2 separate regions of the Homo sapiens genome follow, and region 2 is linked to region 1. Evidence: fine-mapped expression QTL. Tissue or cell type: cerebellar hemisphere. Region 1 holds a variant in brackets; the other region holds the start of a gene. All regions are shown on one strand. Distances are from middle to middle.

Region 1 (4,197 bases):
CACCCAGGGGTGATTGTGGCCCCGAGGGAACATGCAGAGACATTTTGGTTGTCACTGCTTGGAAGGAAGGTCCTCCTGGCGTCCAGTTGGGGAGGGGAGACAGGGATGCTGCTGAACACCCTACCGTGCACTGTAGGGCAGGGGTGCCAAGGTCAGGAAGCCCTGCTCTGTGAGAGGAACCTGGCCATTGTCGTTAATACTAGTACCTCCCGGATACTAAGTTCCTCCCTCTTCCTGGGCCCTGTGGAAAGCGTCTCCTGCCTGGAGGAGTGCCATGGGGTCAGGCTCTATGGAAACAGCCCAGCCTTGTCCTTGCTGGGTGACCTTGGACAAGTGAGCCATCCCACCTCCCCATGAACGAGATTCTCTCTAAGCAGGCAGGAGTGATGGTTCCCATTTGGCGGGGTGGTTGTAAAGATTAAATGAGATTATGCAGGTATAGGACAGGGCTATTATCGTCAATATCATTCTCACTGCTCATCCTACTGCTGCCAGCACTCAGGGTGCAGGTCTTTCTCCACCTTTTTTGGAGAAGAGAGATAAAATAGCTGGGCAAATCACTTTCCCCTATCTGTGCCTCAGTTTCCCTTTCTGTAACATGGGGATAACAACTGCCCAGTGGACTCAACGGCATGAAGCCTCTGTACCCTGAGGGACTCACGAGCCGCTGGAATGGTCACCTTCTCTTTAAACCTTCCACCAGCGCCAGCCCGGTGCGATTGGGTTGATGCCTGTTTTGTACCCTGGAGCAACTGAGGTTTAGAAGGGGCTGGGATGATGAGTCAGTGACAGAGATGGTGCCAGCATCGGCCTGCAGGTGGAGTTACCAGATTTAGCAAATAAAATATGAGATGCCCAGTTACATTTGAATTTCAGAACACAAATCATGTTTTAGTAGCAGGAAAGCCCATGTGTTATTAGGGAAAGGCTTATGCTAAAACATTATTTATTGTTTATCTGAAAATCAAGTGTAAGTGGTGATCTGTATTTCATCTGGCATCCCTATGCAGGGGCGACTAAGAAGTGGGACCAGGCCAGGTGCGTAATGGCTCACACGGCCGTAATCCCAGTACTTTGGGAGGCCGAGGTGGGTAGATCACTTGAGGTCGGGAGTTTGAGACCAGACTGGCCAATGTGGTGAAACCTCATCTCTACTAAAAATACAACAATTAGCTGGGCGTGGTGGTGCACACCTATAATCCCAGCTACTCAGGAGGCTGAGGCAGGAGAATCGCTTGAACCCGGGAGGCGGAGGTTGCAGTGAGCCAAGATCGTGCCACTGCGCTCCAGCCTGGGCAACAGAGTAAGACTGTCTCAAAAAAAAAAAAAAAAAAAAAAGGTGGGACCAGAGGAGTGGGAGGCTGAGGGTGGGGAGGTCAGGAGGGAGGTCAAGGTCTACCCGGCCAAGCTGCTGTCCCCAGGCCCAGCCATAGGTATCCAACCCCCTTGGCTGCTCCTGATGGCCCAGTTGCCCACCCTCTGAAGGCCTGTCCACAGCAGCCAAGAGACCCAAGCGGGTAGGTGGGCTGGGGTGGGCACAGTCCACGGGGGTGTAGGGGGCAGATAAGTGGAGACTCTGTTCTCTGCCACCAGCTATCCCCTGCAGGGGCCCCAGGAGTGGGCCTTGCCCTGGCCTCCTGCCTGGGGCCCCCGCCTCCATGCCCCCCTGGGCCTCCACCTCCTGCCTCCCTGGCCTCTGCCTGGCCACCCCACACCTGTTCCCTCCCATCAGCTCCCCTTGTCATTTGCAGTTACATCCTCTGCCATCTGAGGCCCCCTGTGGTGGTGGATTTCTTTCCTTC[T/G]TAAATGGAAAACATCTTTTGGGGGTGTGTCTCTTTTTTCCTCATAACAAAAATAATATGTGTTCATCACACACATTTCACGATGGATAAACAAGCATAACAAAGTGAATTAAAATCATGAGCCGGGTGCGGTGGCTCGCGCCTGTAATCTCAGCACTTTGGGAGGCCTAGGCAGGCAGATCACCTGAGCCCAGGAGTTTCAGACAAGCCTGAGCAACATGGTGAAACCTCGTCTCTACAAAAAATATGAAAAATTTGCCAGGTGTGGTGGTGTGTGTGCCTGTAATCCCAGCTCCTTGGGAGGCTGAGGTGGGAGGCTCGCTTAAGCCCGGAAGGTTGAGGCTGCAGTGAGCAGAGATGACACCACTGCACTCCAGCCTGGGCAGCAGAGGGACACCCTGCCTCAATCAATCAATCAATCAATAAAGTCAGTCATGTAGAATTCCACCACCAGAGGTATCTACTGACTATTAACATATTGGTGTATATCTGTTTGACCTTTGTGTATGTGTGTGAGAGAGAGAGAGAGAGAGAGAGAAAGAAGGAAGAGGGTTTAACCTTCTCATTTTATTTCCCTGAAGTATTGACTCAAAATAGGTAATTTTGAACCATTTTTATTTTATTTTTTTGCAGAGACAGAGGTCCTTGCTATGTTGTCCAGGCTGGTCTTGAACTCCTGGCCTCAAGCCATCCTCCTGCCTCAGCTTCCCAAAGTGCTGGGATTTACAGGCATGAGCCACTGTGTGCTTGGCCTGAACAATTTTTTCTTTCTTTCTTTCTTTTTTTTTTTTTTTTTTTGGAGACAGTCTCTCACTCTGTTGTCCAGGCTGGAGTGCAGTGGTGCTATCTCGGCTCACTGCAACCTCCACCTCCCGGGTTCAAGTGATTCTTCTGCCTCAGCCTCCCAAGTAGCTGGGACCACAGGCAGGCACCACCACGCCCAGCTAATTTATTTATTTATTTATTTTCAGTAGAGATGGGGTTTCATCACATTGGCCAGGCTGGTCTCAAACTCCTGACCTTGTGATCTGCCCACCTCGGCCTCCCAAAGTGCTGGGATTACAGGTGTGAGCCACTGCACCCGGCCTATTTTTTTAACTTCAACTGAACCCACTTGAAAAAAGAAGCTAGGCTTTGAAGACTACATGGATCACACAATCTTTTTCTTATGTTCTTTTTGCTAAAGATACTACTATTTATTTCATTTCCCAGTTCTGTTGAATTTTCCATTTTTTTTAATTGAGGGGAGATTCACATAACATAAAATTAACCATGTAATGTGTACAAGTCAGTGGCATTTCATACATTCACAATGTTACACAACCATCTCCTCGATCTAGTTCCCAAACATTTCCCTTACCCCAGAGCCAAACCCCACACCCTTAACAGTTACTCCCCACCTCCCCTTTCCCCCTGGCAGCAACTAATCTGCTTTCTCTCTGTGGATTTATTTATTCTGGATATTTCACATAAACAGAATCATACACTGCATCACACATTTATTCAAATGCTAAACATGCAGAAAACCGTACAGCGAACACCCATATCCCACCACCTGATCCTACAAGGAACGTCTGCTGAATTGGCTTTATCATGTATCTGTCCGTGTGTGTGTGTGTGTGTGTGTGTGTGTGTGTGTGTGTGTGTGTGTGAGATTAGATATATCAGTCCCTATAATTTTTTATTTTTATTTTTTATTGAGACAGGGTCTTGCTCTGTCACCCAGGCTGGAGTGCAGTGGCGCAATCACGACTCACTGAAGCCTCAACCTCCTGGGCTCAAGCAATCCTCCCACCTCAACCTCCCAAGTAGCTGGGACTACAGGCGCATGCTACTATGCCTGGCTCATTTTTGTATTTTTTTTTTTTTTTTTTTTTTTTTAGAGATAGGGTCTCACTATATTGCCCGGGCTGGTCTCCAACTCCTGAGCTCAAGCAATCCTCCCGCCTGGGCCTCGCAGAGTGCTGGGATTATAGGCGTGAGCCACTGCACCTGGCCCCTGTGACTTTAAAAAACTTTTTTATCAAGGTATAACTTATATAAACTCTAGAGAAGTGTCTACATTCGCAGACTTCACCTGGGTGAATTTTTGCATCAATAGGTACCCAGATAACCACTGTCTGTGGCAAGATGGGTAACTGTCTAGAAAGCTCCCGGGCCATCTCCCTAGTTGATATCCCTCAGGGGTCAACCCTATGCTGATCTCTCTCACCATCGATCAGTTCTGCCCGACTTTGAACTTTCGAACACTAGCCTCCCTCAGCTAGATGTTCTCTTTCTCTCTCAGCCAGTGTTTTGAGAGAACTTGCATTCCCACCGGGCACCTTCACGAATTAGGCAATGATTAATGGACTTCCTCCTTTTGCAAAATTAATCTTTGATCTGCAGCTCAGGG
Region 2 (4,197 bases), 110 kb after region 1:
GCTGCATAGCCCTGGGGCCATGTTGTAAGTAGGCAGGGGCGGGGGGTCCAGGCACGCCCACCCCATCCCTCCACACCTGGAGGGCCGGGACCCTCCTCAGGGACCCTCTCACTGCCCACAGCGAGTGGGGCTCTCAGCGCCTGGAGGTGAGCCACGTGCACAAAGTGGAGTGCGTGATCCCCTGGCTCAACGACGCCCTGGTCTACTTCACCGTCTCCCTGCAGCTCTGCCAGCAGCTCAAGGACAAGGTGGGCCCGGGCCGAGCGCCTTCATTAGGGGAAGGACTTCTAAGGGTCCTTGCCACACCCTCAGAGCGCCCCAACCTTGGGGTCTGGTGTACCCCACAGCACTGCGAGGCAGCAATGCCCTGTCCTGACATATTGTCCTTGGGTGACCTTGACATCTCCCCTGGGCTACCCCATCCCCCTTCAGCAACCTACAGCACCCTCTCCCCTTGCAGATCTCCGTGTTCTCCAGCTACTGGAGCTACAGACCCTTCTGATCACAGCACCCAGGAGCTTGTCTCCAGGAAGGCGGCCCCGTCCCCTACTCATACCCACCACAGAGCACCAGCCAGTGCCAACGCCAGGCTGCTATTTATCTCCCTATCCCACCCCCTACCCCACCTAACACATTTGCACTGCCGGGAATGGACACTGGAAGTGCCAGGAGGAAGGAAGGCTGGTTTGGTGGGGTAGTGGGGAGGTCAGGGAGGCGGGGCCAAGGGTGTCCCACATTCCCAACACCGCCCTCTGATCACCATGGGAATCTTTGGACTCAGGACAGGGCCAGGCGCAGGGCTCTCCCTCCTCTCCCCTTCGCTGTCCCCTCCCCCTGGAGGGCATGGTGTCGGGGGGTGGCACTGAGCTATGAGTCCCGGGGATGGTGAGGAACGCCACAGACAGAGCCACCCTAGGAGTGAGTATAGTGCTGGTGACTGTGTTTCATAGCCCCAGTCCAGGGCTGTCTAAGAAATAAAGATCATCAGACTCCACCTGGAGCCCCTGTCTGTCTGTCTGAGTGGGAACCCAGGCAGGGGGTCTCTGGTAGTCAGTGGCCATGAGCTTCAGGAGCCAGCCGTCTCCCCTATTCCCGGAGCCTGGCTTCCGCGTTCCCTGTGCCATGCCAGGGCAGGGCACAGAACCTACTGTCGAGAGGGGACCCTCGGGCTGCCAAGAAGCCCATGGGGTGGCGACAAGAGCTCTACCTGGGACTTTGGGCCACCGAGTCTTTTTTTTTTTTTTTGAGACGGAGTCTCGCTCTATCGCCCAAGCTGGAGTGCAGTGGCGCGATCTCGGCTCACTGCAGGCTCCGCCTCCCGGGTTCAAGTGATTCTCCTGCCTCAGCCTCCCGAGTAGCTGGGACTACAGGTGCCCGCCACCACGCCCGGCTAATTTTTTGTATTTTTAGTAGAGACGGGGATTCACCACGTTAACCAGGATGTTCTCGATCTCCTGACCTCGTGATCCGCCCACCTCGGCCTCCCAAAGTGCTGGGATTATAGGTGTGAGCCACCGCGCCCGGCCTGAGACCAGCTCCCCTCCCAGCTAGGTGACTGAGGATGACCTGGCACAGTCGTGCTGACTGAAGGCTTGGAGAGGCCAGGTGGCCACCTGAGTGGGGCGGCGAGTCCCGCGTCACCCACCCAGACGGGGACTGGAAGACACTGCAGACTCAGGCTCTGGGCAGACAGAAGGCTTTGTTACTGCCACCGGGCAGGAGACACAGGGTCAGGGTTCCAGGGCCAAGTTATCCACTCCCTTGGGTCTTTCCTGCACGAGAAGCACAGCGGGACCAAGCAGGTTCGCTCGTTGTTCCCTAGGGGGATGAGCACCCTTCCCGCCACTCCCCTCACCTTCCGCCTCCACCCCCAGTACAGTTCCGTGCAGGTCCCAGAGGCCGGCAGGGCTCACCTTCCAGGGGCTCACCTTCCTGGGGCTTTCCCTGCGGGGCCCGGGGGAGCTGCAGCAGCAGCAGTGGGCGACGACCAGCAGCAGCAGGAGCAGCACGGTGCCTGGGGACAGGACAGGCGTCCAGGTGTGGCCCCAACCTGGAGCCCAGGGCAGGGGGCTGGGAGGACCCAGAGGCCACAGCCACACTTACCCATGAAGGTGAGGAAAACAATGAAGGCAACAGTGTCCCATGTGGACTGGAAAAACTGGTGGCTCTTCAGTCTCCCCAGGACTTCCTGAACCGTGGCCTCCAGCTCCTCTGTGGACACAGCCATCTTGGCGTGCACCGTGCCACCTGCCCCGGTCCCCCAGAGGCTGCATCAGGATCCTGGGCTCAGCTCAGCGGGGACCACATCCAGGCTTCCCACAGCCCAGCCACTGCCCGCTCCTGGCCCAGCGCCAGCTTCCCCACCCCCTCCCACTCCACTTCTCCCTCGGCCCCAGGCCCAGCTTCTCTCCTTGCCCAGCCCTGTGGTCCTTACCCTGACAACCTTCTCCCCAGCCACTGTCATCTCCCCTCTCTCTCCCCCTGGCAGCCCAGCCCCCAGGCCCCCACCTACCTCCTAGAAGCCTCCAATTCCCCCAACCAGGCAGGTCCTGGGGAGCACAGGCTGCTTCCTGCTTCCGGCTCCACACCACCTGAGGCCTTGGCAACCAGCCCCGCCCTCCCCAGGGCCAGCAGAGGCCGCCCAGCCCAGGGGAGAGGGCCCAGGCCCAGCAGGTGCGCTCCCTGGCTCCCCACTGCTGGAGGCCCAGGGAGGAAGACGCCGGCCTGTGGCTTCTTCACTCCTGAGACTTCTTACCTTTCCTCAGTATCCCAGATATGCAGCTGGGAACACCTGTGTGCTTGGCCACTGCTGACTTCGTGAATGAAAGAGAGAGAGATGGGAGAGAAGGTGGGTGGGAGGGAGGGGGAAGGGGGAGAAAACCTACCTGCATCCCACGACCCTTGAGCAGCTAGGACAGGTGTGCCTGCATCATAGAGTTGTCCTTGGAATCCTCAACGATTGGTTCCAGCACCTCCGTGGGTACCAAAATCCACAGATGCTATAAACTCCCTGATATAAAATGAGGCAGTATTTGCATATAACCTGTGCATATACTCTATACTTTAAATCATCTCTGGATTACTTATAATACTTAATATATTTGGCCTGGCCTGGTGGCTCACACCTGTAATCCCACCACTTTGGAAGGCCAAGTTGGGCAGATCACTTACTTAGATCAGGAGCTTGAGACCGTCCTGGCCAACATGGCGAAACCCCACCTCTACTAAAAATACAAAAATTGGGCCGGGCGCAGTGGCTCACGCCTGTAATCCCAGCACTTTGGGAGGCAGAGGCGGGTCAGCTGAGGCCAGAAGTTTGAGACCAGCCTGACTGACCAACGTGGAGAAACCATGTCTCTACTAAAAATACAAAATTAGCCAGGCGTGGTGGCACATTCCTGTAATCCCAGCTACTAGGGAGGCTGAGGCAGGAGAATCACTTGAACCCGGGAGGCAGAGGTTGTGGTGAGCCGAGATCACGCCATTGCACTCCAGCCTGGGCAACAAGAGCAAAACTCCATCTCAAAAAAAAAAAAAGATAAAAATACAAAAATTGGTCGGGTGTGGTGGCTCATGCCTGTAATCCCAGCACTTTGGGAGGCCGAGGCAGGCGGATCACAAGGTCAGGAGATCAAGACCATCCTGGGTAACACGGTAAAACCCCATCTCTACTAAAAATACAAAAAATTAGCCGGCCATGGTGGCACGCGCCTATAGTCCCAACTACTCAGGAGGCTGAGGCAGGAGAATTGCTTGAACCCTGGAGGCAGAGATTGCAGTGAGCCGAGATCTCGCCACTGCACTCCAGCCTGGGTGACAGAGCAAGACTCCATCTCAAAAAATAATAATAATACAAAAATTACCCCGCTGTGGTGGCGGGCACCTGTAATCCCAGCTACTTGGGAGGCTGAGGCAGGAGAATCGCTTGAACCCAGGAGGCGGAGCCTGTAGTGAGCCAAGATCATGTCACCGCACACCCGCCTGGGTGACAGAGCAAGACTATCTCAAAAAAAATAAATTGGCTGGGTGCGGTGGCATACTCCTGTAATCCCAGCTAATCGGGAGGCCAAGGCAGGAGAATCGCTTGAACCCAGGAGGCAGAGGCTGCAGTGAGCCAAGATGGCACCACTGCACTCTAGCGTGGGTGACAGAGCAAGACTCCATCTCAAGAAAAAATTGTATACATATATTTATTTA

Evidence for each region. PIP is the estimated chance that this variant, and not a neighbour inherited with it, causes the effect.
Region 2: it holds the start of SMIM22, and the variant in region 1 is the best candidate, but not a certain one, in a credible set for the expression of SMIM22 in cerebellar hemisphere (GTEx, PIP 0.73).

What each region holds. Positions count from the first base shown.
Region 1 is chr16:4,906,566-4,910,762 of GRCh38, reverse strand. All of the region lies in intron 2 of PPL (periplakin), which reads left to right. All of the region lies in intron 1 of LOC124903637 (a long non-coding RNA gene), which reads right to left. Among named protein-coding and RNA genes, the nearest start is that of PPL, 28 kb to the left of the region's middle. The variant T/G (reference allele first, on the strand shown) is at 1,803.
Region 2 is chr16:4,793,765-4,797,961 of GRCh38, reverse strand. SMIM22 (small integral membrane protein 22) reads right to left here and starts at 2,593. Exons shown (of 4, transcript NM_001253794.2): 1 at 2,513-2,593; 2 at 2,104-2,247; 3 at 1,914-2,014; 4 at 1,471-1,772. The coding sequence starts at 2,227. The coding sequence ends at 1,731. ROGDI (rogdi atypical leucine zipper) reads left to right here. Exons shown (of 11, transcript NM_024589.3): 9 at 1-24; 10 at 122-248; 11 at 461-994. The coding sequence ends at 502.